Homo sapiens: one gene and its partners. The protein of the gene in region 2 purifies or fractionates together with the protein of the main gene of each other region. This does not show direct contact. Each region holds a gene or a part of one and is shown on either strand. Other genes may lie near its edges. The genes, in order: UBR2, INSL5, PLXNA2 and SEMA6A.

Evidence for each region.
Region 1: the proteins of INSL5 (region 2) and UBR2 purify together in Homo sapiens (affinity purification with mass spectrometry; 2 studies listed by BioGRID and IntAct, with this or other methods). This does not show direct contact.
Region 3: the proteins of INSL5 (region 2) and PLXNA2 purify together in Homo sapiens (affinity purification with mass spectrometry; 2 studies listed by BioGRID and IntAct, with this or other methods). This does not show direct contact.
Region 4: the proteins of INSL5 (region 2) and SEMA6A purify together in Homo sapiens (affinity purification with mass spectrometry; 2 studies listed by BioGRID and IntAct, with this or other methods). This does not show direct contact.

What each region holds. Positions count from the first base shown.
Region 1 is NC_000006.12:42,671,833-42,679,523, reverse strand, and holds part of UBR2 (E3 ubiquitin-protein ligase UBR2), read right to left. Parts: intron 5,734-7,691; coding exon 5,637-5,733; intron 5,399-5,636; coding exon 5,331-5,398; intron 3,469-5,330; coding exon 3,333-3,468; intron 2,742-3,332; coding exon 2,651-2,741; intron 986-2,650; coding exon 855-985; intron 1-854. UniProt on the Homo sapiens protein: E3 ubiquitin-protein ligase which is a component of the N-end rule pathway.
Region 2 is NC_000001.11:66,798,157-66,805,873, forward strand, and holds the start of INSL5 (insulin-like peptide INSL5 precursor), read right to left. Parts: upstream 3,121-7,717; 5' UTR 3,066-3,120; coding exon 2,891-3,065; intron 90-2,890; coding exon 1-89.
Region 3 is NC_000001.11:208,240,993-208,248,572, forward strand, and holds the start of PLXNA2 (plexin-A2 precursor), read right to left. Parts: upstream 3,393-7,580; 5' UTR 2,651-3,392; intron 1-2,650. UniProt on the Homo sapiens protein: Coreceptor for SEMA3A and SEMA6A. Necessary for signaling by SEMA6A and class 3 semaphorins and subsequent remodeling of the cytoskeleton. Plays a role in axon guidance, invasive growth and cell migration.
Region 4 is NC_000005.10:116,564,597-116,572,287, forward strand, and holds part of SEMA6A (semaphorin-6A isoform 2 precursor), read right to left. Parts: intron 1-7,691. UniProt on the Homo sapiens protein: Cell surface receptor for PLXNA2 that plays an important role in cell-cell signaling. Required for normal granule cell migration in the developing cerebellum.

The DNA of each region.
Region 1 (7,691 bases), on a different chromosome or scaffold from region 2:
TCCTACATCAAACTGGTCCCAATGTCCTGGTGTCTCGGCTTTATCATTTGCAAAATGGTGTGCCTGCACAATCTACTGCACAGGGTTATTGTGAACATTAAATGATAAAAATGTATGGGTGCTCTGGAAAAGGATCAACCAATACAGAAATACAAGATGGTTTTACCACGAGACACAGATTTAAATACCAACTCTAATCATCACTGCAAATAATCTGGAAGACTAAACTCTTTTATATGGTTCCTAGGCAACTAGCTAAATGGAAATGCCAGTGGACAAACTTTCAGAGAGTAGCACTGCATGCAGGTACTCTACGGCCAGTGCCAGGCACTGTGGGATACAGAGATACAGTCAAGTCCACATTCATACTACTTTTATGAAATGAATCAAAACAGAACATGGAAAACAACTATGAAAGAGCAAATCAATTCCCAGATTAAAATCAGATTTATGTGCAATTATGGGTATTCTAAATTTTAATGCTATGCATGTTTCAAGTTAAAAATCACTTGAAATTGTCAGTTTTCACCTTTTCAAATCTGAGGAACCTTGTTTATGAATAATACATAACTGAACATTTTAACATCTGAAAGCAAAACTATGATCTTTACGGGAGAAGGGCTTTGCAGGTGTAAAAACATTTACACAGAAGTTTAACAGTCATTTACTGAGATCCAAATAAATGGAGACATATGCATAAACATACATTTTATGCTATAAATGTGTACATCACCATAGTCAATAAGCTATTCTTTGAACTTTTAGTCAATTTTCATTTTTGCAAGTGATCTTTATATTTGCTGGAGTAAAGGATTACTAACTCTCCCTACGTTTTGAAAGAAAGTATAAATTACCTTGAATGTCGGGTGGGGAAGGAACTCCATTTAAGTAATGAAAAAATAAAGCAGAACACTTCAGGAAAGGCATGATTCCAGCTCTGACACTCCTCCACAGATGCCAGCCGGATGGTATTTCTTTCAAGGCACTAAAAAAGAAAAAAAAGATTATTGGGAAATCTACTAAGAAAAGGTCACTGTACTTATAGTGTGAAAACAGACTTGACTGTCATTTGGAACTGATGGCATGTATGCTTAAAAGTTGTGAGTTAACAGGCAAGTGGGTGTGTGTTATTATAGGATGCCAGGTGTAAGTGGTGACACAGCCTCCAATGCTGTTATTAAATTTTTTGAGACGGAGTCTCGCTCTGTCGCCCAGGCTGGAGTGCAGTGGCACAATCTCGGCTCACTGCAAGCTCTGCCTCCTGGGTTCACGCCATTCTCCTGCCTCAGCCTCCTGAGTAGCTGGGACTACAGGTGCCTGCCACCACGCCCGGCTAATTTTTTGTATTTTTAGTAGAGACGGGGTTTCGCTGTGTTAGCCAGGATGGTCTCGATCTCCTGATCTTGTGATCTGCCCGCCTTGGCCTCCCAAAGTGCTGGGATTACAGGTGTGATGTTATTAAAATTTATAAAAGTAACATAGTGACATAAAGAGAAAATGTGGAAAATGAAAAGTTGTCCAGGCTGGACTCAAACTACTGGGCTCCAGCAATCCTCCCACCTCAGCCTCCTGAGCAGCTGGGACTACAGGCACATGCCACTGCACCCAGCTCCTAGGAGCCATATTTTAAATAGATTTATAATATTTTGGAACACATTCATCACTATATCAAACTATTCCCCTGCAAACACTTAGATTGCTTTCAATTATTTGCTAATATAAATAATATCAGAGTGTACATCTTTTTCTTTTTGAGACAGGGTCTCACTCTTTTGTCCAGTCTGGAGTGCAGTGGTGTGATGGCTCACTGCAGCCTTCACCTGCCTGGGTGATCTGACTACCTCAACCTCCTGAGAAGATAGAACCACAGGCACATGCTACCATGCCTGGCTAATTTTTGTATTTTTTGGTAGAGACAGGGTTTCACCATGTTGGCCAGGCTGGTCTCAAATGCCTGGGCTCAAGCAATCTGCCAGCCTCATTCTCCCAAAGTGCTGGGATTATAGGGGTGAGACACCGTGCCTGGCTGGAGTGTCCATCTTTATATGCCTATATGTTTTTTTTCTATATGTTGAATTATTTTGTTAATGTAGGTTCTCAGAAATGGGATAGTCAAAAAACAGACATTTTTATAGGTTCCTGACTACAGATTCTTGACATATATACTGTTGAAAGCTAAGCAAACTACTGAATTGCTATTTGTAGCAAATCATGACTCTAACCATACATGGAATTCTAATAATTTCATTTTATTCCTGCTACTACTGAATATTACCTTAAAAATAAATTATGCCAATTTAACTTGCAGTTTTAAATTCCCATTCTGAATGAGACAACATAAGTTTTAGAGTATCAACTTTCCAAAGTACATTTGATCTATCCTCTAGTCTCTGCCAGATCCCTGAGCAAATGAAGGGTTCCACAGCCAAATAAATGTGGGAAGCTCTGCATATTATCACCTTTCTCCCAGATTTCCAATTATGTTAGTATATGAATAGTTCAGAAAGGCTCTGCAGATCACTCCACGTCTTATTTTAAAAACATGTCAACAGACAACAAATTCCCCTAATTAACAAACGAATTCCTTTCTCATGCTATCATCATCTAGCAATATTTAGGGAAATGCGTTATGTAAAGATAACTAACTCACCTTCCCGTATACTGGTGAAGTGTTTTATACAAAGCAAGAACTGCTGATTCTTCTTCACAAGGGGGATTTTCTTGATCCATGCCATTCTCTTCTGAAAGATAAGGAAATACTAGTACTCTGTATTTTCCAATTAAGTGTTATCAAAAGGACTGAAGACATTAAGCATGCAAATATATTCATAAACTCACATATAACATGAAGTATTCCTAGAAAACATGCAAAATTGTAATCCCTCAAGTGGGAGCACAGTATTGATCTCAATCAAACCAAACAGCCAGCTGGCATGTTTTAAGTAAAATCAAATAAATATAGTCTTAAAGTGTATGAAAAACAAGAATTTTGAATGCAAAACGTAATTTAATGATGAATTCATGTGGGCATTAACAAACATGTAAGTTAAAACAAAATTGGCATTCTAAAACATAAGATTCTAAAAGATTTAATTACTATTCTACACAAATATTACTGAATGTATGAAATTAAAACTAGAAACATTCACATTACTAGGAAATTTTAAGAGGAGAAAGAAATGTTTCAAAACTTTTCATATGAAGATACACAGAAAAAAACAGCCTTATTCATGTGTTATTCTCATCCAAATACCTTTTCCTCTAATACTTTTTTTAAAACTCAGAAAACTCAAGTATTTCCTTCAAGAAACTGACAAAAAGGCAAGAGTTACCTGTACATGAGGTAAGTAAGATCTGTATGATGTGTGCCATAGTAACCAGATGGAAAATGTGAAGGTCTCCAGTGCCAAGGCTGATCCCTGAAAAATCCTGACACTGCAACGCAGGAAATGCAAGCACCAAGCCCACCTAGGCACCAAACACAGGACATCAGACAGATCGCCTTTCCTTTCACAGCTAAGCAAATTTCCATCTTCTTACTTTTACTTTTATTTTGATTTTTTTTTTGAGACAGAGTCTTACTCTGTTGCCCAGGCTGGAGTGCAATGGCGCAACCTCGGTTCACTGCAACATCCACCTCCTGGGTTCAAGCGATTCTCCTGCCTCAGCCTCCTGAGTAGCTGGGATTACAGGCGTGCAACATCATGCCCGACTTTTTGTATTTTTAGTAGAGATGAGGTTTTGCCACGTTGGCCAGGCTGGTCTCGAACTCCTGACCTCAGGTAATCCGCCCACCTCGGCCTCCCAAAGTGCTGGGATTACAGGCGTGAGCCACCGCGCCTGGTCACATTTCCATTTTCTTACTGTGATCCCTCCTGAGTTCAGCTCCTCCCTTTAAGAAATCTTTGTTCTTAAAGAAAGGGCATCCATGTTGGAAAATCCAATAGGACTGGCTACATGAAATGACTTGAGTTACAGGACTCTTGATGGGCACTATGATTTCATTAATCCAGTGGGTCCTCTATACATAGCTTATTGTTAACAAAAACAGTATCTGAACTCTCTCCAGGACTGTAGGCAGTTGAAAAAACATGGGTTTTGGACCCATAAATATCTAGATATGAATCCTACCTCCTCCTCTTATGAGCTGTTTTACACAAATTAATATCTCTGATCAGGCCTCAGTTTCCCTATTGGTAAACTAAAGACAATATGTTACATGTAAATTGTAGAGATGTAAGTGTGAACGTATGTAAAAGCTGGCAGGTACACAAATGCTAGCTCTGTTGGCCTCCTGCTGTCTGCATGGCAGTATAAGTGGTGGTGGTTTTAGTTGCAGCAATGAGAACAGTAATAGCCGCATTTATTAGGAATATATTGCTCTAAGTGTGTTACATGGATTAACTCACTGAGTTCTGACATAGTCATATAAAGTAGGTACTAACCAACTTAAAGGGGCAGAATCTGAGGTCCAGAGAATAAAGGCACAGCACTCGGGGCTGCTGGGTGTGGCAGTACACTCTGTACCCTGTGCAAGGGAACCCAGTTGAGGTAGGGCTGAAATTTGGCTACCCACTATTTGGACAGCTGTGTGTCTTAGCACTAGGATGTCCTGGCTCAGAGGACATACCTTTCCCTGAATTATAAGGGGCTCTCTGCTGCTAAGTAGTGTGACCACAGGGCTGTATCTGCCAGATTTTCGAAAATGTACAAAAGCACTGTATGGGCCAGCAGCAGTGCTTCTGTTGCTGTTTTTTTTTTTTTGGATGGGGTCTTGCTCTGTCATCCAGGCTGGAGTGCAGTCATGCAATCTTGGTCACTGCAACCTCCGCCTCCTGGGTTCAAGTGATTCTCCTGTCTCACTTTCCTGAGTAGCTGAGATTACAGGCATGTGCCACCACGCCCAGCTAATTTTTTGTATTTTTAGTAGAGATAGGGTTTCACCATGTTGGCAAGGCTGCTCTCAAACTCCTGACCTCAAGTGATCTGGGGTGAGCCTCGCAAAGTGCTGGGATTACAGGCATGAGTCACCACACCTGACCCGTTGCTGGTGTTTTTATCTCTTTACAGGTTAAAAGCACAGAGAGGTTAAAATACTAACCTCAGCCATAAAGCAAAATAAGAGTCAGAGGACGTCTCGATAACCAGGTCAAGTCTCTCAACTAGGTTCCTAAATATTTTCTTTTTGAGGTTTCTCATAAAAGAATTATACTCAGAAGGGGTAAGGAAATCACATAACTCCTTCCTGTCTGCCACTACACTGCTCACCAAACCTAAGGTAAAGTTACATAGTATGACGTAGAAGTCCAAACAAACTGCACAATACCCACCAATAAATGAAACATGTCAATATCTAATATGCATGGAAGTTCCTCATGGCTGTCATTAGGCACCAGTGCTACAGATTTAAAGAGAAATACATTAGCATATTTCATATGCCAACATGTTAAAATGCATATAATCTGCTTTAAATTTATCTTCTTGCAAGACACATGAGAATTTATAAGCTAGAGCTTATATATAAGAAAACCAGTACTACTAAATATTTAATTCATTACTGAGAGAAGCTGTACCATTAAAAACAAAATTTCAGAGGATGAAAAATTACAACATGTTATAAATGTATTAATACTCACATGCAAAAAGTTTACAAAAATGTCCTTGCACCACTGAAACTGATGCCACTGTCCAGTGTGCTGCGGCAAATCTCGTCAATGACCTAAGACAGTCATCCTAAAATAAACCAACGCAATTAACAAAAAACAAAAATGCAAAGCAGTTCTCTTTCAGGAATGCTAGTTCAGAGCACAGCTGGATGCACAATGAAACTGCTCTAGATGGTATGGAACTAGATCTATGACATCTCAATGACATGCCTCTAACACAGGATAAATGGAATGGGAAATGTCTAAGTGTGTGCTGAATAAATGAAATCTATCTCTTTGCCACCATGTTGCTGGTTTTCTCTGGAAAAGAAAAGAATATAGAATATACGCATCTGACAGAAAGCAAGGGACACTCCCAAGATGCCAGTGCAGGCCGGGTGTGGTGGCTCACACCTGTAATCCCAGCTACTCGAGAGGCTGAGGAAGGAGAATCACTTGAACCCTGGAGGCAGAGGTTGCAGTGAGCTGAGATCACACCACTGCACTCCAGCCTGGAAAACAGAGCGAGACTCTATCTCAAAAAACAAATAAACAAGCCAAGATGCGGATGCAGTATTTCTCTATGTTTATCCTAAACAGATACCCTAAAACACATATCTCTTATGTTTATCCTAAAGAGATCCTCTAAAATGTGGATACTCTTCCGTAAAATGTAGAGTATCCTAAAGAGATACTCCAAATATTGGGGAAACTGTCTAAGAAGATGGTGGTACAAATGAGGGTGCCTGCAGCTATTAAAAATTGTTATGAGGACTAAGTAGCAGTAATAAGAAAACTCTTGATTTAAAGAATACAGCAGAAACAAAGCTACATGTGAGTACCAATTGTAATCAAGCATAAATATGCTAATGGAAAAAGATGGGTATGTGATAAGTTGATGACTTTTTTCTTCCTGCTTGTTTTTTCATTTTCCAAATTTTCTGTAATGTTTGGTTCAATAAATATTGAGGTCCTACTATATACACTAGGTCTTGGTTCTGAAGATCTTCAAATAAAACCCATTCTCCCCCTCCTGCTCTCAAAGAGCTTAAAGTCCTGGGGTGGGAAAGGAAGAAAGTGGGGAAGGAGGCAGGCATCACAGATGAGAGGTCTCTAACTCACAGTACATGGTTCAGAGGGCTTTCTAAGGGAAGGGAAAGCTTGAACAGCATCTGAAAGAGTAGCAGTCTGCTTAGGGTACTCTAGGCAGAGGAAATGGAATGTGCAAAGGCATGGGAACTAGCATTGAGGAACTGGCAGTGATTCTACAAGTCTGGACCACAGGGGTGGGAACTGGCAGGAGGTGATAATGGAGAAATAGGTTAAGAAGTTTGTAAAAGTATGAAGAATATGAACAGGATTGCTTTTGAGGAGCCCCTCTAATAACGTATTAGAGAAGAGTGAGATTCTGGGTAAAAACTGCTATGATAATCTAGGCAAGAAATAATATGGGGCTGAACCAAACAAGTAGAAGAAGGAATGGTGAGAATTTGTCAGACTCTGCTGACCAACTGAATGTGAATGCCCAGGCTAAAAAATGTATCTAGGCCGGGAATGGTGGCTCATGCCTGCAATCTCAGCATTTTGGGAGGCCGAGATGGGCAGATCACCTGAGGTCAGGAGTTTGAGACCAGCCTGGCCAACATGGTGAAACCCCATCTCTACTAAAAACGCAAAAATTAGCTGGGCACGGTGGCATGCACCTGTAATCCCAGCTACTCGGGAGGCTGAGACAGGAGAGTCGCTTGAACCCAGGATGCAGAGGCTGCAGTGGGCCGAGATTGTGCCATTGCACTCCAGTCTGAGCAACAGAGTGAGACTCCATCTCAAAAAAAAAAGACTTCAATTTTCTGGTTTCTCCTGGATGAATAGTGGTGAAATTAACTAAAACAGGGACTATAGGAAGAAAAATTAATTTGGATTGAATTTTAGGTATGTGTAGGAGATCCAGGTTAAAAAAATAGGCAGAGATAACCTACACCTAAGATAAAGATCTGGGTTGGAGATACACAGGTGGGGATCATTTGGATATAACTGAAATCAGAG
Region 2 (7,717 bases):
TGAGGCATCCACCTTCGGAAGGTTTTGCGCTGGATTTTCCTCAGAAAACTCACGTTTATGTGGGAGCTGGAAGGAGTTTCCTGTCTCAGCTGTATGGAAGAGAAAAAAATAATACATCCTTAGACAGCTCCTACAAAGAAGGCAGCAACCACATTCCACTCCTGGGGAAATGAACTGGATCCCTAAAATGAAATAGAATCATACACATAATTTTTTAAAATGTTGGCCTGGTTTCAGAGAGATTAGACATTTTGGGGAGAGCACAGTCATCTCCACTGTCCTCATTTTACAGAGGCAGAAACTTGAGTGCAAAGATGAGGAGTGACAGTCAGTGTTGCTCAGCTAGTCGGGACTTGACTTCTTTTACTCGCTACCTCTGCTGGATGACCAGCAGCTTCCAATATTAGTTATGTGCTATAAACAAAAAACACATAAACAAAAAAAAACCCTGTGTATGCCCTGCAATCTCGATCAGTAAAGAAGGAAATGGAGATTTAAACCTCTATATCTGAAAATAAAAAGTGAAATTCACAGTTTTTGCCTAAGTGTTGTTTCCAAAGTTCATATATAAGCTTCTCTCACTTTAATTTAGTTCAAATTGACTTATCAATGCCTTAGCACACCAGCAGGCACCATGAAAAACTAGGTGAACAGATGCTGGTTGGTAAACCAGTAATTGATCAGATAAATAATGTGTGGGAAAACACTGAAAATCTGAGAAAGATTGAATAATAAGTAGTATGATTTCAGTGATGTCCAACAGAGCTAGCCTTATAGATATCCATTCCACTCCCCTATGTGTTTCAGAGATATCCCAAATGTATTTTTATAGTGCATTTTGGTTTGCTATTACAGAGATTGTTGTAAATCCTGGTAAATTATGCTTACTCTCTTAAGATTAAAAACCCATATAATTTTTGTTAGCAACTAGTCATATGAACTTCAATATTAAAGTGGTACTGAAAATGGAAAATACATGCTTTTTCAACACATTAGCCCACCCAAAGATGAACAGTTTAGGTCATTTTCTAAAAGGTTTTTATTACCAACATCATTTTAAATTAAACTGAAACCTTAACAATCATACATATAGTCGCAACATTTATTATGTAATCACATTTTTCCTTTTTAACTTTTTAGTATAAAACATAGCAAATACAACCAATTATTAAAATACACTCTTAAGCAAGGCACAGAAAGACAAACACCACATGATCTCACTGATATGTGGAATCTAAAAACGTCAAACTCAAAAATGTATAGCGGAGAACGATGGTTATCAGAGGGTGAGGGTGAGGGGGATGGTTGGGGAAGAGATGGTCAAGAGTACAGAATTTCCATTAGAAGGAATAATTTCAAGAAGTCTATTGTACAACATGGTGACTATAGTTAATAAAAATGCATTGTATTCCTGAAATTGCTAAAAGAGTAGATTTCAAGTGTCCTCATCACAAAAACATAAGTATGTGAGGTAATGCATATGTTAATTAGCTTGATTTAGCTATTCCACATGTATATTGTATGTATACCTATTTCAAAACAATATGTTGTACACAATAAATGTATATAATTTTTACCAATTAAAAAAATAATTTTTTAAATAGGATTTTCAGCCATGCCCAGTGGCTTATGCCTGTAATCCCAGTGCTCTGGGAGGCCGAGACGGAAGATTGCTTGAAGCCAGGAGTTTGAGACCAGCCTGGGCAACATTGCAAGACCCCACCTCTACAAAATATTTAAAAATTAGCCAGATGTGGTGGCACACACCTGTAGTCCTACCTACTCAAGAGGCTGAGGTGTGAGGATCACTTGAGTGCAGGGGTTTGAGGCTTCAGTGAGCTATGATTGTGCCAGCCTGGGTGAGAGGGCAAGACCCTGTCTCCAATCAAATAAATAAATAAATAAATAAAAATCTAAAAATAGGATTTTAAATAAATTCTACCTCATACTTTAATATGGAATTAACAGAAAGAATTTCAGTCAAATTTTTAAGTTAGTTGAATTGAATAATAAAGAAATATAGTGAAGTCAGCCGCTTCACCGTTTCTGAAAGACATTTGGTTCATTTCTTCCTTCAAAATCCTGATCAGACAATTCCTACTACTAGAATTCCCACCCTGCTTCCCCACCACCTTCCATAATCCCCAAATCCTTCAGGGCCTCTGTCAGTAACCACCACCTCCATGATGCTGTCACCTATTACAAAATAGGTGACATTTTGTAATAGGTGACATTTTGTAACATTCTCTTTCCCACCCGAGACTCAGTATGGAATTAGTAAAGACCTTGGCTCTTGAAGCCAGATAGACCCAGTTTCCTACCTAACCACATTTTCACCAGCTGGGAGAAGAATTTTCTTCTTGGTAAAATGATAAATGGTGGTAATTTTGCTTGCTTCCCAGGATCCTTATCAGAAAGCTGAATGAAATGTTGCACATGTAACTTCCCAGCACTTAAAAGTGCTCAATTAAGGTCAGCTTCTTTCCTTGCATCCATATTTAACAACTGCCGGAATTCTAACTTATTATATTGTACAATTATTCATGAGTGAAAGTCTTGCTACTTCAACACGCTCCTTGAAATCACATGCTTCGCCATAGCCTCCAAAGTACCTTCCACAGATGCTGAGCCCATTGAAGTAGTCATGCGATTAAATGATTTCAAGCAGGGGACTAAAAAATGAGGTAGTTATTTTTTGAAAGGTAGCATGCTCATCACTTTCCCAAGCCAAATTCAGTATATTTTGATAATTAATCCCTTAAATTGACATAAAAAATGCCTCAACAGTACTTAGAGAAACACTTAATAAAATAATGGTTTAAAACACAGCTTGAAAAAATAAAAGAGACATGTGAAAGGAAAATAGAGGAGACACATGAGTTACTGTTACCTTGCTGAGCTTGAGGGATCCCCTCCTGATGCCTTCTCCACCTGGAGCTAGCACAGATATAGATGACTGTCCGTATGTATTCTAGCCCACAGAGTCTCACAGACTCCTTGCTCCGCACTTCTGAGATGGCAAATAGGACAGAGAATAAAAACAGAGTGAAAATGGAGCCCTTCATTTTGCTGAGGACTGAATGTGAATCTGATATGGTAAATATAGTCAAATCAAATTCTGGAGTGACTGTCACTCTCTTGACCAATTTATACTAACTTTCCTGACATTTCATTGGTCAGAACCTCATTTTTACAATATTTGCTAAGCACATAGGGTTACACAGTAAAGTTTTGAAAATGCGGTTTTATGAGTATTGCCAGCTATTCAGTCTCTCCTTAATACCATCAACGCATCTGTGAGATGATAAAAACAGATGCCCTCTTGGAAGGCATTATGGAAAACTCACGGACTTTGAAAGTTGCCAAGAATGAGTTTCACTCTCAGCCTTGCTACTTACTGAGTGACATAAGGCAAGTTTTAAACTTTTTGAGTTGAGGCAAAGCCTGGTGGCTAACACCTGTAACCCCAGCACTTTGGGAGGCCAACACAGATGGATCACTTGAGGCAAGGAGTTCAAGACCAGCCTGGGCAACATAGTGAGACCTCCATCTCTACAAAAAATTTAAAAATTACTCAGGCACAATGGCATACTTGAGCCCAGGAGTTCAAGGTTACAATGAGCCATGACAGTGCCACTGTACTCCAGCCTGGGTGACAGTGAAACCGTGTCTCTAAAAAACAAACAAACAAACAAGTAAACAAAAAAACCTTTTGAACCTCAATAACCATATCTCTGGAATGGGAAGACCCATCTCACAGGGGTTTTTTTGAATATTGAAAGCAATATGAATGTCAGAACAATGGGATATCACACTTAAGTAGGCAATTTCTTATGTCCTGAGTTTGAATCCTGGCCGTTGCTGTTGCCTGGCTGTTACTTACCAGATCTAGACTCTTAAGCAAGTTTTTAAGGCATCCTTCTTTGTAAAATAGTGTTGATGATTGTAACTACCTCATAGGTCTAATGTGATAACATGCGTCCCACTTGGTACAATAAACAGCTAATAGGCCAGGCGCAGTGGCTCACGCCTGTAATCCCAGCACTTTGGGAGGCCGAGGCAGGTGGATCACGAGGTCAGGAGATCGAGATCATCCTGGCTAACACGGTGAAACCCTGTCTCTACTAAAAATACAAAACATTAGCCAGGCGTGGTGGTGGGCACCCGTAGTCCCAGACACTCAGGAGGCTGAGGCAGGAGAATGGCATGAACCCGGGAGGTGGAGCTTGCAGTGAGCTGAGATCACGCCACTGCCCTCCAACCTGGGCGACAGAGCGAGACTCTGTCTCAAAACAAAAACAAACAAACAAACAAACAAACAAAAACAAAAAAAAACAGCTACTAATTATTAGCTGCTTCTCCTCTCACCATCAGAATAGAAGACTAGAAAAGATAACTTCAGAATTCAGAAGATTTTATCTGACTAGGATCTTGTTATCCTTCACCTATGACCTAGGTACACTTTTCTCAACACACGTATTTATGATAATAGAAAGCTAAGTCCATATCCCAAATAGCTAAATAATGAAATTTCTCTTTTGGTAAAACCTCTGAAAGCACTAGCTCTTGCAAAGGTCTTACCTAAACTGAGAATCCCAGAGTTTGGGATCTTAAAGAACTGTTGACTCAGGTTTTAGCAAGTTGAACAAATAATGGTTCAGTTGATTCTGTGAAATCCTTGTCTGTGATTCCTGGTTGGAAAAAAATTGCTAAGTCTGTGGCCATGATCATATCATTTGTACTTCTTGTGAAATCACTGTTCTTCTGTAGGGAAGCTGGAAAATACAACAAAATAATCTGTTATCTAATTGAAAGCATTCTTTGCTGTAAAAAATAAAAATTATTTCTAAGAGTCTTGCTTTCTCCATTTCTTTGGCTGTAGTGTGAAGAATGGATTAAGAAAGGCAAGACTTGAGAAAGGAAAAACAGAAAAAGGCTGTTTCAATAATTTAGATATGATGGTGGCCTAAACTAAGGCCATGGAAGAGAGATAGGACACATGTGTATTCAAAATATAGAAGGGCTTGGTACTGACTGGGTATCAGGGGCAATGGAGAGAAAGATGTCAAATATGATACCTCGATTTCTGGCTTGTTCAACTGGGAGGTAGGGCGGTCATTTGCTAAGAAAGGGACCAAAGAAGCAGAAATGGTTCTGTCATCAGAGAAAGCTACTCCATCTTTGGATGGGTCAAAATCAGCATCTTTCATCAACTCCAGAGGGACGTCTGTATTACCATGCTTAGCACATCCACAACATAACAGCTATTGAGCCATGTATTACCAAACTTCTTCCCTTCTTTGGAGATTTATAGTGCATATCTTGACAATGCCAGTTTTAACATAGCACTGCAGTAGATCTATCATCAGTGGCTATGGATTGGGCTTCTGCACAACCCCAGGGATATTCAGCCAAGGGACGATCCCTACCTTGGATGTCAGATGGACTCTGGCATGATCCTGCTATCACCACACTTGATGCCCCTAGGTGCAAAGTAGTCCCCTCTTCTACCAGCTCTTAATACCTCATTAGGGCTCATTTAGTTTGGGATGGAAGGCTGGCAATACTTGAGCTCATTCTGTGACCTAATGGAGGCAAGTTAGACAGCCAAGTAGCTACCCAGATGAAAAAGCTCATGACAATAATAAAAGCCCTAGATGTGAAGCCTGAAATTTTGGGGCTTATTTTCCCCATTTGTATATTGAGAGGGTTGGATTTAATTGTTAAAAGTCTTCTCTGCACTTGAAATTATCAGTCTTGCTATAATTGTCTGATTATGTTACTCCCACCTCACAAACCTTCAGTGGCTCACCATTACCTCCAGAAGACAATCCAAACAATATCACATTTAATGCTTTCCACTCAGGTACCCAAACATCACTTTTTTCACATACCTCAAGGTCCATGAAAGGCTAACCAACTGAAAAGGAATCTTTCCATCTTTTGAGTAACCACAGTTTCTTTTTTGCACCTCTCACAGGAGCACTTAATCCCTTTCATTTGGAGATGGACGTGATTTTTCTTCCTCATTCTGGTCTGTAACTCAGTTTACTATCTATGTGGCAATTATTATGTGTCTTATTTCAGGTTTCCTTCGGATAGCTCTAACAAAATACCAGAGACTGGGTAGCTTATAACAACAGAAATTTATTTCTCACGGTTCTGGAGCCTGGGAAGTCCAAGATGAAGGTGACAGCATGGTCCGGATTCTAGGACCTCTCTCTGTGTCCTTTCACAGAAGATGGGGCAAGCTGGCTCTCTGGGGTCTCTAAGGTCATCAATCCCATTCATGAGGGTCCTGCCTTCATGACCTATTCACCTCCCAAAGACCCCATCTCCTAATTTCATCACCTTGGGGGTTAGGATTTCAACATAGGAGACACAATATGTAATTTTCCGCTCTGAGTTTTAATTTCTCCATCTATGAGGAGATAATAATCTGTGTTTTATAATGTTATTGTGAAGCAAAATGAGTTAACACAAGTACAGCACCTAGAATAATATATAATTCAATAAATAATAAATTAACAATGTCATGAACAAGGGATTAGAAAATATTATTTTTGGTTGGGACTAGCTACTATGGATGACTCTTCTGTATAACTCTTAATCTCAAAACCATCCATAAATTTGCACTGCTGTCGTCTTTTTCTTTCCTCCCTTCCTTCATCCTTTCCTTGCCTTCTTCTTTCCTTTCATCCTTCCACAAACAAGTTCTAATAAAGAAAGGTCTTATGGTACTGTTTCTTAAAGTGTTTTCTTCAGAACATGAGTCTTTGCAGATGGTCTTTGAATATTTTTTAAAAAGGATTCCATGATAGTAGTCTCTTTCTTTGAGATTAATAATGCCTACTAATATAGTAGAGCCCAGAGAAGACTTATAGTTATGAAATTTCTTTAACTTTGTTTAATTCAATGTTTTCACAACTTATTTGATGTTGGAAATAACTCCATTGTGAAATTGATTAACATCTGGGATTGCTGTGAATTTCTAGAGTAGACGTATCTCTAGTTCTCCTCTGTCCTGACACATGGTAGGGTTGTATTTCTCTGCTCTTTAAAATTGGGCAACACCATGTGGCATATTTTGGCAAATAAAATGTGAGTGGATGTGACATATGTCACTTCTGCCTGAAATTTAAGGATCGGTGTATGATCCTCCAGTTCTCCCTCTTCCTGGCTGTGGTTACCAACAACATTCCTGATGTGGGAACCTAATCACTGAGTCAGAACAATATGGAGCATAACTGCCCACTGATCTGTAATGAATATGTAATATGAATGGAAAAGAAACCAGCCCTCAGAAATAATGCCGCATATCTACAACTATCTGATCTTTGACAAACCTGAGAAAAACAAGCAATGGGGAAAGGATTCCCTATTTAATAAATGGTGCTGGGAAAACTGGCTAGCCATATGTAGAAAGCTGAAACTGGATCCCTTCCTTACACCTTATACAAAAATCAATTCAAGATGGATTAAAGACTTAAACGTTAGACCTAAAACCATAAAAACCCTAGAAGAAAACCTAGGCATTACCATTCAGGACATAGGCATGGGCAAGGACTTCATGTCTAAAACACCAAAAGCAATGGCAACTAAAGACAAAATTGACAAATGGGATCTAATTAAACTAAAGAGCTTCTGCACAGCAAAAGAAACTACCATCAGAGTGAACAGGCAACCTACAAAATGGGAGAAAATTTTCACAACCTAC
Region 3 (7,580 bases), about 140 Mb from region 2:
ACCCCCAAACAGTGACAACTCCAGCACCATAAATATTTCATAGCACCTAAAGTGGTGAGTTTAGGCTGCTGTCAGCTGCTGCCTTGTATATTTAACCATGTCACTGGTTTCCCCTCCTGTTCCTATGTTTTCTTGTAACCTGCCCATGAAATAAAGATTAGCTGAGTAAGCAGAAGTATTGGTAAATGGGAAAGGGACCTAGGAAACAGGTAGCTGTTCTTTGAGGGCTTTCTTTTTAACCTCATTTTAAGTGCAGACTTCAGTAAAACAGATGGTGAAGGAACTTTTACATTCACCGCATCTGCAGCTTTTGATGGTCAAGAGAGTTGCAGGGTGAATGTTCCCTGGTGCTCTGAAGACAGGGATAGGTATTCAGACTAGCTCTGAAAGGGGGGCCACCAACCTTGTAATGACATGGTTTTGGGCGATGGACATAAGACACTGCCATACTCTTCATTTAGACTTGGGCTGAAAAGCTAGCCAGCCCCCCTGTCCTGCTCCAGGCTTTGAGGGACCCCTGTCCTTATGCCCTGCCAAAAAGAAGGACCAGCTGGGATTTCCTTGGCAGACTCATGGTCCCTGGATAGAGATCTCCTGGTACTTTACCACTGCTGCTCCTCAGCATCTTCCCTGCACATCGCTCCAAATGTCATTTCCATTTAACTGCTTTGCAAGCCAGTTTGCCCCCATCCTAATGCAATTTGCTGAGGACAGTGAGGGAGCAGAGAGGGTAATCTGCATTGCCCTCCCTTTATCAGCAGGTCCCTGAAGACGATCGGCTGCGGAGTGGAGGGAAATAGCTCCTTTAGGTAATGCTGGTTGGTGGCAGCAGGGGCAAGTTCTGGAATGAGGAGGGGTTGGTGGTGATGCCAGGTGGAAGAAGGGGAATGAAAAACAACCTCGCTATGACAGATTCCACTGTTTCCTTGGTTCCCTACCCTTTCTCTTCACTGCCCCTTCAGCCTCCAGGCCACCACCAAGGAGAGATCCCAGGTAATTAGTTCAAATGGTGCTCCGTGAAGAGAGAGGGAAGTTAATGAATTCTTCTCTTTTCTTGCCTGGAGGTCAGAGGGGAGAGGGCTGCAAGCAACTCTGGGAGCTTTCTGGGGTTATTGCATAAAAGTTGTGCATTTCAGTTAGGAATAGCTGAATTCCTCCAGCCAAGGTTATCTCTTCCTGGGGCTCTGTCAATCAGTAGAAGGCCCCAGAATCCAAAGCCAACCCAGAGGGAAGAGTGAAGTTTCAAGATCTGGGAAAGAAGCCCAGCAAAGGAGGGAGACTGCTATTGTGTGGGGAGAGGGGAGAGCTAAACCTGACTCCTGCTCTCAAAGCCTCCAGCCCAGGCCAGCCAAGATACTCATCTTGGCCTGCCGCTCATAAGCCTTGTCCACTGTGCGCGTGAATGGAAGGAAATGAATGTGCCCCCAAATTTCTGTGGGTTCTTCCAAACTGATGGGCCCCCAAGTGACTGCCTCAAGCTATGACTGGCAGTCCCAGTCCCCTCAAACTGATGCTGCCTTCATGTCCCTTGTGCACTTTCTACTGGTGTGCCACTGTCACTCTAAGATTCCTACAGGGGACCTGTTCAGATTTCCATTGCCCACTTCATGGGGCTCTCATTTCTAGACCCTTACTGACCTAGAGCCCCAAATCTTTTATCCAACTTCCTCCCCACCATTATTTCTATCCCTCCTGAGCAGAGCTGAGTTTGAGTAGGTAGCTCCCACTAGGGCAAGGGTCATTCCAAACAGGTGGACTTTTTTCGGGGATCTAAAATGGTAGTTTCTGGTGACTCTCTGGGCATCTAGACCATGATTGGCATTATAGAGACTACCTGTGGGATGGATAAAAAGGGCTAGAATTTTCTAGGATCCCTACCTCACTTGTGGGGTGGGGCAAGAAAGAGCACATGGAAGGAAACATTCTCAAATGGTTCATAAGGAGCCTCTGGGACCCTAAGCAAACTCCCATTTCAACCCCCAGCACTCCTGTGGTGCTCAAACTAAGGGGCTGGACCCCTGCTGGGCGATACACCGCAAAGGGAGCCCCGGGAGATGAAACACTTAGACCCATTCAGTGCCTAGGAATCTCTCCCTGAGCCTTATGGAACCCGCGCAAATGATGTTTTCCCATTCCCCTGATCTCCAGTCCCCGATCGGAAGGGAGAGCCGGCGGCCACCAGGGACCCCGGCACTGGAGTGAACGCCCCCAAATCGATCGCTGGCCAGTGTGGCTTTGGGCTGTCTCGCTGGTGCCACCGAGGCCCTCTTTGGGCTCCAGCTCTCAGGACAGCCTTGCCGCCCCGAGCTCCCCAAAGCCGCAGAGCGCCGGCAGGTGCGCGGTGGAGGCGCGCCGCGGAGCGCTGCTGCCGCCCTCAGCCCGCATTCGGGAAGCCGGCGGGCTGCCGGCCGGGAAGCCCTCGGCGGGAGGCAGCGGCTCCAGTGAGCCTGCGATCGCGCGCACGCCGCGCTCCAGCCCGCGAAAGTGGCCGAGCCCACGCGGGGACTCGCCCGCCGCGGCCAAGCCGGGTCTTCTGGGGCCGGGACCCCAAAGAGGCGGGCGCGGGAGAAGCCGCCACGGGTGTGCGCGCCTGTGGGGAGAGGGCGGAGGGCGCTGCCGACTCCGAGCGCCCGGCCCAGCCGCCGCTTACCCAGCTCGGCGACGTCGGTCTGTCCTTCCGTCCCCGCTCGGTCTACCTCGGCCGCCGCCGGCTGCTGAGGGCGGCGCGAGGCCCCTCTCCCTGCCCGCAGCTCGGAATCAGGGAGACGACCAAATCCACATGGAGTCCAAATTCATTAAAATCCACGTCAAGCCACCAGACACTTATCTGTATTCCTGAAGTCGCTCCTCGGTCTCCGCTCCGCGCGCCCCTCAGTCCTCCGTCGCCCCGCAGCAGCCCGGCTGGGCGCTGTCGCCGGCTCTCAGGGGGCACCCGGAGGCGCCGAGGGGGCGTGTGGGGGCGGCCGGCGGTGTCTCTCCTGAGGAAGAAGCAGAGCCCCGGCTGTCTTCAGATTTTTCCAGCGCGACTTTCCGGGCTCCTCTGACATCAGCAATCCCGGCGCTTCCTTCCCTTCTTGCTCTCCGGTTCGTTCACAGTCCCATTTCCTCCGGGAGCCTGGCTTTCCAGATCTATTTCGAGGTTTGCTCCGCTGGCTGCGGCGCTCGCACGCCCTACCGCTCCCAAGCTCTCGGGGTCTCTCTCCGGATCGCTCGCCCTCTCGGCTGAAAAATTCCCAGCAACTGCCCTCCGCCGCCCTCCCGCTCCAGTCTGGCGCGGATGCCGCTCCTCCCGGCAGCTCTGGCTCCCGCGGTGGCGGCGGCGGCGGCGGCGGCGGCGGCGGCGGAGGAGCCCTGAGCGCCGGCCTCCCTATTTCACCATGCAGCTCATTATCATAGAGGCCGCGCGCGTTAACCCCCTCCCCGCCGGCCGCGTCCGCCCGGGCTGGGGCCGCGCCCGCTGCTGGCACCGCCCGCCACCGCCAGCACCCTGCCCCCTCCCCCGCCCGCGCGGACTTCCTCCTCCGCAAGCTGTCAACAAAGGAGAAGCAGGTTTGGCATCCGGAGGCCGCTCGGCTGCCTGTCCTGCGCCCAGCTCAGCCCGGACCCATCGGCCACCTTAAGTAGCCAAGGGGGCAAGGAAAATGCTGCCAGGGCCCGGGAATTCGAGTCGGGCCTTGCGAGCCCAGCTGGCTTGGCCCCCGGGGGAATAGAAGGTCTAGCGTTGGGGTTAGGGGGGAGCTCAGAACACAGGAAGAGTGGGTGAGGGCAGTAGGGACAGGGAATCCCCCCCATTCGCATCACCTGTCACCGCACACATCCTGCACACCTCCCTCTTCATCTGTAATTTGAGTGAGGGGTGAGTGGGGAGGAACGGGGCTTGTCTGGTAGGGTTGAGACTAGAGTCTTGGAATTTGTGGGAGCAAATTTCCTCTTCTTGTAAATTAAAAAAAGAAAAAGGCCAACAAGCTGTCAAATAAGGCTTGAAGTTGTTGTTATTATTATTATTGCAATGAGAAGATGAACCTTGCTCTGAATTGAATCTCAAACTTCCAGCCCTGATAGGGATCCTGGGCATCTGGTAAGTCCCGACTTGCATGGGGGCATTGGGGACGGGAGAAGAGCTTTCTATATCCAATTCAGAGAATCTTTCTGGCAGGGTAATCAGAGGGGTGGCAATAAGATAACTTATTTTAATAACCTAAGGTGAGAGGTTTCGGGATTCTGGATGACAATGTCTCGGTGCCCTCAAGGCCACTGATTCCTCGCCACACAGTCTCAGTAACTCCGCAGCCTCTAGACACGGCTTTCCGGAAGCGGCCTGCAAGCTGGACCCCAGCGAGTTCGCAGGATCTGCGTAGTCCCTGCTCGCGATTAGAGCGCACACGAGTTTACTCCTGTCCAAGTATTCTGATAAGCTTCCTCTACTGCCCTCTCGTGGCCACAGTCCTCAGTGGTATAAATCTAAAAAACAACAAAAATCACTGCGAATACCTAAAAGCAATTGCACCAAATTCTTAGAGCAGTAGCGGCAGAAGAAACGAAGGGAGGGAAGGATGAAGAAAGGGAGCCGGAGAAAAGAGAGAGAGAGAGGAAGAAGAAAAGGAAATCTAGACTAACCAGTCATCTCGAACAATCGCACATTCAACACAGGACTGGGGGATCTAGGCTTTACTCCAACATCTGCAGAAATCAGCGAATTCTTCAAAAGTTCTTCATTGTAATTAGCTGAAATTTGTGTTCCTGTAACTTTCACTGGCTACTGCTAGTTTTGTCCTGTGGGACCACAAAGAATCTGTCTAAGCTGTGTTGCCTGATCCATACCTGTTCTTTCCTTCAAACTTCTTTAGCATTCATTGTTGGTAACACACCAATAAATTATCATATTTACCCTGTGTTATTATTTATTTATTTTTATAAGTAGATCTTGTCTCCCCATGCAGACAGACTAGTCGATCGTTTTATCTCTGGGTAGACTGAATCTAAACCACAATTTATTAAAAAAGATGATTTGAAGAAGATGCTAGAAGATTTTGGAACACTTCCTCCATTTGTTCATGGAGTTTGGCCAGCTACACCTAAGACCAGCCGTGGTAGGATTGGAGATATCTAATTGATAAAGCTCCAAGCTGAAAATTAGGGCCCTCTGGTTCTAAATCAAGTGGTGTCTGACTCTGGAAGAGGTCACCTCTCTTCCCTATGCCTCAATTTAATCACACCTTGGGAAGATTATGATACAATTGAAATAATTTTCTCATATGCCACCCTCCACTCCTGTGGTCCAGAAATAAATCTTAGAATGAAGAGCAAGGAAGCATAAAATGAAACAGACTCTTCCACTCACCCCATCTTTTATCCCCACACCTCCCCTCTCTTTCCTGAATAAAGGGAGAGAAAGAGGGAACACAGGCGGGAGGACACATTGTGGCTGACAGGGTGGCACGACGCCATCCAGATTCCACATTGCCACTGAACAGGGTCTAAGATCTGAGTCCTGTGAGACTATGGAAGAGCCTGTGGTCAGCATAGCAATGGAAAGAGCGCTAACTTGATCTACTGGGAGGTACAGTGGATGAAGTACCTCTAACTTCTCTAGGCCACAGTTTGTCCATCTGTAAGATGGGAATTTCTGTCTTCACTCTCCAGACAACTGGGGGAATTAAAATAGATATATGTAAGCGTGTTGGAAGAAGTAATAGTATCATCAAAATGGAAAGATTGTTGTTATATTTAGTCCTAATAGGCTAGAACAAATATGGATCTTATTAGCTAAACATCTAATTACCATAACATGCTCTGAGAATTTAAAAAAAAACCAAAACCTTGGGTTCATGGTTCGTATTTAGATTTGACATCCTCTGAGGCAACAGCGGTATACCTGAACCTCTAGTCTTTACATCTGCTCGTTAACCTTCTCCCTTTGATCTGGGTATTCATTCATTTATTACGCAAATATTTATGAAGAGCAAATTTACTAAATTTCTTCCTTTAATGGAACTATATACAGTCCATAATTACTGCTTTGGCACATATTTTTAAAGAAAGCATGGCAATAACCCTACAGATTCTATAACCTCAGATCTATCTCTTTCTGAGGTTTCTGGTTTTCTTGTATGTTTCTGCCCTTCACTATATTCTTCCTCATTCTGTCCATCTGATATCAGGCCCACAGCCCCTTGGGACTGACCAGTCCTCTGTCAGGGCCTTGTAGTTCGTCCTCATTTCCATCTGGAAGGATAGATGTAGTGCAACATATTTGTGAGCAGGCTGTCGATATTTAACAAATATTTATCAAATGAATGAACAAATGAATGAATGGGGAAATGTTTATCTTATGCCAAATCCTCATCATTGGAAAATCATAGCACACTCAACAGGGTTCTCCACTCACCCCAACCTACCTACCTTCCCTAGTCAAGATATTCCTGGAACCTCACCTTGAAAGTCATTTGTCACTTCTGCATTCTTGTTCCAGGCCCCAGGCCTCTTCTTTGCTTGTCAAAGAAGCAAGCTAAGTAACTAGATGGGTTACTTAAGCAAGAGAATGAGAGAAGTGGGAGAGGACAGGGCACCAACATTCTGGAATGCCACAGAATGTTTCCTGTGAAGAATGAATATTTCTCCTGTGGAAGGCAGGTTTGGCTAAGATGCTGCCACCTGCATTTTCCAGGCTGGGAGCAGGCCTTGGCCCTGGAAAGCAAGCTCTTAGACTTTGGGGAGCACAGGCCCAAATGGGCAACTAGCCCATCCCTAGGGGAAGTCCTTTATGTCACAGCAGCAGCTCCAGCCCCACAAATAGATGCCAGTACAGTAGCCCCTCGGATCACAGGAGGTATTTTTGGTGCTGGAAGCCAGCCACACTTTGGCAGGCTTTCAGCATCAAGTCTGTTCCCTTTAGAGGCGGGGGGTGGCAAGCTATCAGTGTTTAGCATGGGAATGCTGCCTGAGAGTGTGTGCATGCATATATTTACGGTGCCTTGAGTCGGCTGGGAGGTGGGCTCAGGAGGATGTGTGCCTGGACCTGTGCTTGGGAGCCAAGGGTGCTCCTGCTTGCCAGTGTCAGAGGGCAATGTTTGGATGGTGCACTGGCTGTTGCCCGGTTTGTACCTGGCTCCCAAAGCTGAGACCACTGATGCCACCACCAAGTTGATTGGTCTCTGCTCTAAGATGCATGTCATCTTTCACTTGCCCTGAGCCCAGGCTTGCCACTATAGACAGGCAGGAATGTGGTCCCTTCTGTCTCCCTACCAGGTACCTCACCTTCATCCAGCAGATGCTGTCAGGCAACCCCAGCAGCAGAGCAGCCTCCCCTTAACCCCTACATTGTTAGGAACAAAGGGATTGGTCCAGACAGGCCAGCCTGGAGTGTGTGGGCCAAGTCCTGTGAATGGAAGAGAGAGACTGCGGGATGCCAGAGTGGTGGGTCTCAGCCCAGGCAACGGGGCTGGCAGCCCAGGACACAGGAACAGGGCATCTGCTCCGGGGTTCTCAGTACCATTCATAAAGACGTCACCCTTCCCTCCCCTCCCCTCCCCTCTCCTCCCTTCACAAATCCCACTTTCCTGTGTACTTTAAACAGTAGC
Region 4 (7,691 bases), on a different chromosome or scaffold from region 2:
ATGTGTATCACCCTCTTACAGCAATTTACTCCCCAAATCCTTTCTTGACCAAGTCACACAATATATACACCACTGGAGAACATTCTCTAATCAACTCTAAAGTCACAAACCTAAAAAAAAATAGCAAAATATTGAAATTATTAAATAATTGAAAAATGTTCATATACTATTCACGAGTTGACAAAGCAGTAGACCTACAGTCCAAAATGTATGAGCCTTTTGTTGCAAAATACAGTAAAATGGTCTCTAGCTCCTTAGCAATGAGTGTCAAGTGTAAAAAAGGAAAGGTTAAACCTGAAGTAAAGCTCTACATGTTTCCATTGCCAAAATAACACACGGCACACAGCAATCATGATGTCATTTTATTTATTTAGTAATCTGCAAAGCCAAAGCCAAATTATGGAGCAGAAATTTTAAGCAAAGTCATGAATGGCCTCATTTACCTCCACATTTGTGAATAGTCTTAATGAAGAGTTTGCGTCCCTTTGCTTTCTTGTTGAAATATGAAAGTGACATCAGCCTCTGTACTGTATTTTTATTTATTTATTTTTTTTGCCAGCAAGACTGAGCAAGAGGCAAATCCTGGATTAAATACCAGCTGGATGTGCACATAACAAGGTCCAGGGAGACACTCTCAGAAGTTGCCTCTTTTAATCCAACACTGAATTATACGAGAAGCGGTTTTCAGTCTTTCAGAGCACAACTGTCAAAATAACTGCAAGGCTTGCAAGCCCTAGTATATCTCAAACCTTTCCCAAGACACCCCAACACTATGTGAGGCACTGAAACTATGGCAACCGAATAAGAAAGCAGCCTCCATGATTAACAGATGAAGATCCCAGCGACAGTGTCTAGCTAGGGCCATCATTCATGATACAAGAAGAATTAGCACAGAATCCGTCTCGAAAACCATTAACAAGTATTCTTATAAAAATCAACTCCACTGCCATTCTGCCAATATACTTGAGTTTAGAATGCTACAAACAATTTGGTTTCTATTTATCGCTCACTATGCAGGAATGAGAATGTTCTTAGAAACTCAGATGCTCATGTTTTTAAAATAGTGAAAGGCTTAATAGAATGGTTTTCCACCTGGGTATTTTAGGCCTAAGAACAAATACATTGAAAAACCAAAATATGTGAATGAAATCAAGTGGCTCTCTGGGTAGAAAGGAGGAGGGACAGTTGTTGAATTGTTTTGAGTGTTTTTTTGTGGAATGCAATTTTTTGTAAAGCATTCCATTTTCAGGAAAGGAACGTTTCCATTCACCAGCTCAATCAGTATTCTCTCAGTTTCCTCATTCAAGGACAGTAGGAGTCTGGGGGAGGGGCGGGGAAGTGCTGAAGTCGCTGCAATATTAATGAAAAGACTGAATACTTTTCTTTAAAAAACGAATCAGGAATAGGAACAGGGAAAGAAGAATGGATCTATCACAGCTTGTCTGTAAAACCCTCATAGAACATTAAAACATAATTAATACAATCTTTATTTCTTCGTAGTCTCTAACAATGTTTATTTTCCAATGGCATGTTTTCATTGTATTTAATGCCAGATCCTGTTCTGTTCTATAAATGCTTCTAATCAAATCATGGCCAAAGGCTGGTCTTTGAAGCGTAGAGGGGCAGAAGGGCTAAGAAAGGCGTAAACAGCACCAACTTTAGAGCTTCTTCTGCTAAATTTTTTTAATTGGCATGGATTCTTTGAATTTAATGTTCTACAGATGACAATTATAGGTTAGTTGGAAATTCCTAGAAAGCACCTAGGAATATTAAAAGAAAGCTTCAAGTCTAAAGGCTGCATGAGGAAGTATCTATTACTAACAATGCTTTCTAAGCAAAAGTCACCATACTGGCTGCTAAGAAGGATCTGAAACTTCGGTCCTTGCAGCATGTTAATTACTGATTTATCTCACACTCTTTCCATTCTGTTTCCACTTACAGAGTTTGAGAACATTTTATTTCCTAGTTGAAAATAACTGTAACTCTAAGCCATGGAGGCATTCCTGGAAAACATAATGGTAGCAGGGAATTGTGGTGATAACATCAATTTATTTCCCCTTCTGCTGTGCCTTTTAGAAGTCAGATTTTTCTCACTGATAAGAACTTGTATGACTATCATTTGAATCAAATTTCAGGTTTTGTAGTAGTGTGTCTGTCAGCAGAATAACTGCTATCTCTACTGGGGTCAGCCAATTATTTCCTACCTTTGGTGTGGAAGGCAGTAGTTTGCTTTTGCTCCCAAATTGATTTCAAGCTTGGCCAGGGAAGAGTGACCTGGCAGATGCATGCCCAACCTGAAGACCCTCTTGCAGAAGTCCTAGCCACAACCTCCTCAAGGGTTCCAATCAGCAGCCGAGTTTCTCTCCTAAGACAGGTGTGGTCCTTGGGAATTCAACTCATCCCTAAAATTGTCATTATGAGTTGCTTTCAGATTCTAAATGTAGGTGCAGAGTGTACATTTTATTATTAAAATGTTAATAAGTGATAGCTATCATTTTTCAAAAACTATCCCTTGGGCTCCTATTTGATATAAGGCTCTGCTTGTTATTATTATTATTTTTTATATATAGTGGTTTTTTCCTTCCATGTTTTGGGTGTGATATTTCAAATTCCAAAGTTTCCCTGTTTCCTGTTTCCCTGCAAGTGATGTATTCACATGCTTCTCAACTTAAAACCCATGACATTATGGCCTGTTTATGGTATGAATGTTTGTTTCTAGTCCAAAGGTTGTTTTCTTTTGCATCATCTCTTTATATTACAGATTCGTAGCCATTTCCTTTTCTACTATTTCCCCTGCCCCCCAGAATAAAAGTACTATCTGCTTTTTCAAAATCCATTCCTAGGACATTTTTCGTAACTACTGTTACTCAAGTAAAAATAATACCTTATGTTGAATGACTGCTTGTTGTGTGCCCGGCATTGTGACATGCATTTTACAGATGTTAGCACATTTATTCTTCTCAAAACCATAACATTATCATCATACTAGCACTTTGCAAATGAAAACTGAAGGAGAAAGGAAACTGGCATAAAGTCACACTGTTGGTAAATGGCAAAACAAATCCACGTGCATTGTCTGTCAAAAAAGCATGACCTCCGCAATGCCTCTAGAGTTGTCCACTACCTTCCCTCCAACGGTCCCTTCACATTTATTAACCTCACGCCACAAGATCTAACGAATTCGGCCTTGTTATGACAAAGATGGAAACTTCTACTAGTCCTGGTTCACCCTGACATATTAATCGTTACACTGATTTGAACTATTTCAGAATTTAACTGAGCAAAAACAATTATCTTACTTTTAAACTAATTCCTGGCAGAATGGTACTCCTATGACCTTGCCTGATTTAATGATAATGTTGAAAGCAATGTTTCCTTGACATGGTAGGTGTTCTAATTAATAAAGTTGCTATCCATGCTCTAGGTGAACTGTACAATTTCAATGAATTTGAACATATTATTTAGTTGCATAATGTGATTTACATTAAAACTACATGAACAGTGTATATTCTACCAAAAATAATTTAGAAGATGAAGTAGGATCTCTGTTATATCCAGGGTCCAGAGTGGGAAAGAGGGGGTTAACATCAAACTTCCCAAATTTCCACAATGCGTGTAATATTTCACTAAATACATTCACATTCATGATTTCGTATTATTTTCCCAGTAATCCTATAAGTTAGGAAGAATAGGTTTACTATTTATAATTTTCAATTAAAATAATGCAGCCACAGAGAAGTTAAGTGACTTGTCCAAGGTAGTGAGAGTCTGGAACTCAGGTCTTCTTGTCTCCAAGTGCAGGATCCTCAACAGCAGATATACTGTACGGGTACAGGGCAGAAACATGGGTTAATAAAGTATGCTGTATTCTCCTGATAGAAAGTTGAATTTTAAAACTACTATTAGCAAACTCCAAAAAAACATGAACGTTCTATGGCCAGTGGTTAGAATGCAGAACAAATGAGGCCAGGGTCAAAAGCTCAATCCCCACAAATGCTGGCTGTCTTCTTAGCTCTGTTTCTTGGCAAGTTGATTTTACCTAACTCAGACTCCCTCCAGCTACAACCAGGTGTCTCACAGATGTGTGCTCTTGGACACAGGAGGGGACTGGGTGAGAATGTGGGAATGAACAGGCTCCAATCCATCACTACCACTGGAAAAACAACACAGTGAATGTTCCACTAATGATGCATGAGCCATACCACCTATGTGCTTGGAAGATTGTACACACACACACACACACACACACACATTCATGCATGAAGTACACACACACACATGCATGCATGAAGTATCTCATTTGATAAAAACATGATATAGAAAAACAAAGGCAGACAAAATAGATAAAATAAAGACTAGTTGTTTGCAAAAATGATTCACTGTTTATTCATTCAGCAAACACTTGTTATGGATGGCCCATGATGTGCCAGGCACAGCTTTAGGTGCCAGAGTGAATAAAGCCTAAAAATGTCTATCCTTATGGCATTATGTTCTAGTGGAAGACAGAAAATCAACAAGGACAACATATAGTTTGTCAGACTGTGAAAAATGCTAAGAAAAAAATAAGGACTGCCAAGAGGTGGGGAGTGCTGTGGGAAAGAGTAAAGTAAATAAGGGGATCAAAAGGCTTCACTGAGAAAGTGACATTTGAACAGAGACCTGAAGAATATGAGAAGCAAATCATGTAGCTATCTGGGGAAAGAACCATCCCAAGGCATGAAAGAGTAAGTCCTTGCAAAGGACCCCAAGTATATGCCATGCTTGACAGATTCAAGCAAGCCCAAGGGGTGGAGGTCAGAGAGGTTGGAACCTGAGTGCAGATCATGTGGGGCTGCAAAGGCCATAGGAAGGACTTTGGCTTTTATTGGAAGAAGATGGGAAAACATCTGAGCAAAGTAGTGATCTGATCTGGTTTAGTTTAAAAAAAAAATCACTGCTGTGTTTTGGCTGCTGTGTTGAGAAATGGGCAGAGGCAGGAATGCTAGTGGGGAAGCTGGCATGAAAACCTAGCAGGAGAGGACCATGGCTTGGCCAATTTGAGGGCCACAGAGGAGGAACACCTGAAGGAAGCCTGCAGGTATTCCAAAGGTGGAGCCAACAGCATTGCAGCCACAATGGATGTAGGTGTGACAGAGAAGCTTCAAGGAGAACTAAATTTGGGGGCCGGCAACTCAAAGAATGGAGTTGCCATTTACTATGATGGAGAAGACTATGAGAAAGGCAGATATGGGGGAGAAAGATACAGAATTAGGTTTTTTAAACCTAAGTTTGAGATGTCTATTCAGGAGGAGCTACCTACCCACTAAGCATTGGTTATTTGTGAGGTCCAGGAGAGAGGTCTAAGCTGAAGAGGTTATTTGGGAATCATCTGTGTATTATGGTTTTATATGATACCCTCTATTGGTGTAAATGGAATTATTGTAATAAAGTTTTGCAAGAGCTCATCTGTTTCACAAAGCAAGATACCCTTGTGTATAGACTATATGCAGTAGTCCCATGGTGAGAAGTTGTCCTGAACTCCTCCCCTTGAGGTTTGTGTGGTATGACATCTCATTTGCCCATTTCGAAGGGATTAAATGCCTCCCTCCTTTCTCTATCTTACCATATCCCCAAGAGGCAACCATGTGGTCGCCAGCAGAGAATAGCTCAGTTGCTCTTGCAGCACATTTTAAAGCAGATGAGAAAAGCCTTCACGCTGAAATAGAAATATCTCAGAGAAAACTTGGCTCCAAGGCACCCCAAGAGAGTGGGGGGGGTTCCTGATATGGGAGGGCCCAGCAGAACGCCTCAAGGCATCACCTTCCTCAACATGCACAAATGTGGCTGCCATAACACAAAGCTTCTATATAAATATGTCAAGGAGCACTCCTCTACTCTAGGAGGACAGAAAATTGTCTAAACCTAAAGAAGGGTGTGGAGAGGGGCAGTGCAGAGATAGGCTTTCCTAGGCATTGCCTTACACAAATGGCAGATGCTTAATTAAAGCATTTGCAATTAGCTTAGCTTGTTCTGTGATTCCTTCCTGCAAACAAATAAGATGGAGAGACTATATTAGCTCTTGGCAATCTAGTTCTAAAAAAACTTTCATCCCATCATCACTCTTTTGTCCTGTTCTGAAAAGCGCTGAACCACAATGTACACAGAATAAACTATCTGACTTAACTCCTGGTTCAAAATAGTATTTTTCCTTCCATTTCATATAGGAGTGCAACTACCCATTTACTTTTAAAGCATAACTACTTATTTTGAATTTAATACAAGTTCTTAATTTGGATGCCTCATTTTTATTTGGTGAAGATAACAGTCTTCCTAATTCTTGCTACACTTCTGATTCAACACATTAGACTTCACTAGTGCAATGTTACCCGCCTACTCAAAATACAACTGCTATATGTGTTTAATGTTGGAAAAAGCATTTACTAGATTTTGGAAGAACTTGAGGGGTGTGTGTTGTGTGTAAATAAAAAGGTGCACTTATTGCCGCCTTATCATAACCACTCACTTGAAGGCATATATTTTTTTTTTCACTGTAGGGAAAATAAAGAAGTCCACTTTAAGTGGACAAACATGAACCATGTGTGACTATTTATTTCATTCATTCGACATTTACTTGAGTGTTCTATACTGGTTCTTATAAAATTTTTACCTATTTAAGCTTAGTTGTTATGTCCAATAAGTATATTCAGCTGATGGCTCCTCAGAAATGATTTTCGGTATCTGCTTAACATTTACATATGTGGATTATATGCGTTATTGAAAATGTAGCACATCTCTAAAAGGTGATAGCTGCAAAACCTAACATATGGGGAAGGTTGTCACCCACAAACACTGTACATCAGAAACATAAAGTAGAATGCTTCTTTACATCAAGTTGAAAAATGACTCATAACCAAAAGTAAGATTTTAAATTTGATGTTCGTTCTTTTCTGCTTTAAACTGGTTTGCAAAGTGCCTCATTCAAGAACGTCCCAAAACCAAAATAATAACAGGGAGTAAGGGTTACTCAAGATTCAAATAAAAGTTACCATACAAACAAGCATGGGTAAACCAAATTCAAATAGCTAGTGCAATTATTTTTTAATAGATAGTTTAGGTTAATAGGTGGAGACATAGTTCTGCCACTGTATTTAAGGTTAGGTTAATAATTAACTTTGGTGCCTGGAGTAGTTTAATCAAAGCTTACTGTAAATCATAAAACTGCTCCATGTAGACTAAACACAGCATTAAAAAGTCATACAAAATTCTTGCAATCTTGACCGCTGGTAGCCATTTGGGTACGGTATAAAAAAGTGTAGAGTATTTTTAGTCAGAATTAAACATAGGCATCTTTACTTTGGGGAGAAAACATAATTAAATAATTAATTAAACCACCAGTCCTCCCCGCCATCACTGTAGCATACCACAGACTTGATGCCCAAGATGTGTCCACCAGGGGAAGGACGACGAACAATTTCAGGACTAAAGAAAGACAAGGCAAAGGCACTCGACCTTCCCATCCTGGCAAGACTTAAAAACCAGCGCTGGGGGGCATTAAATAGCTTTTCTGAGACCTGCTGGCACAACACTGCAAGTGGGTTAAACGGCTTTTCAGATCTGAGGTAAAGAAAGTTGTGCGTACAAGGGCGAGTGTGTGCGTGTGTGTGTCCATGCACGCCTGTGTTTTAAACCTTTCACAGATCGCATTCAGTAGC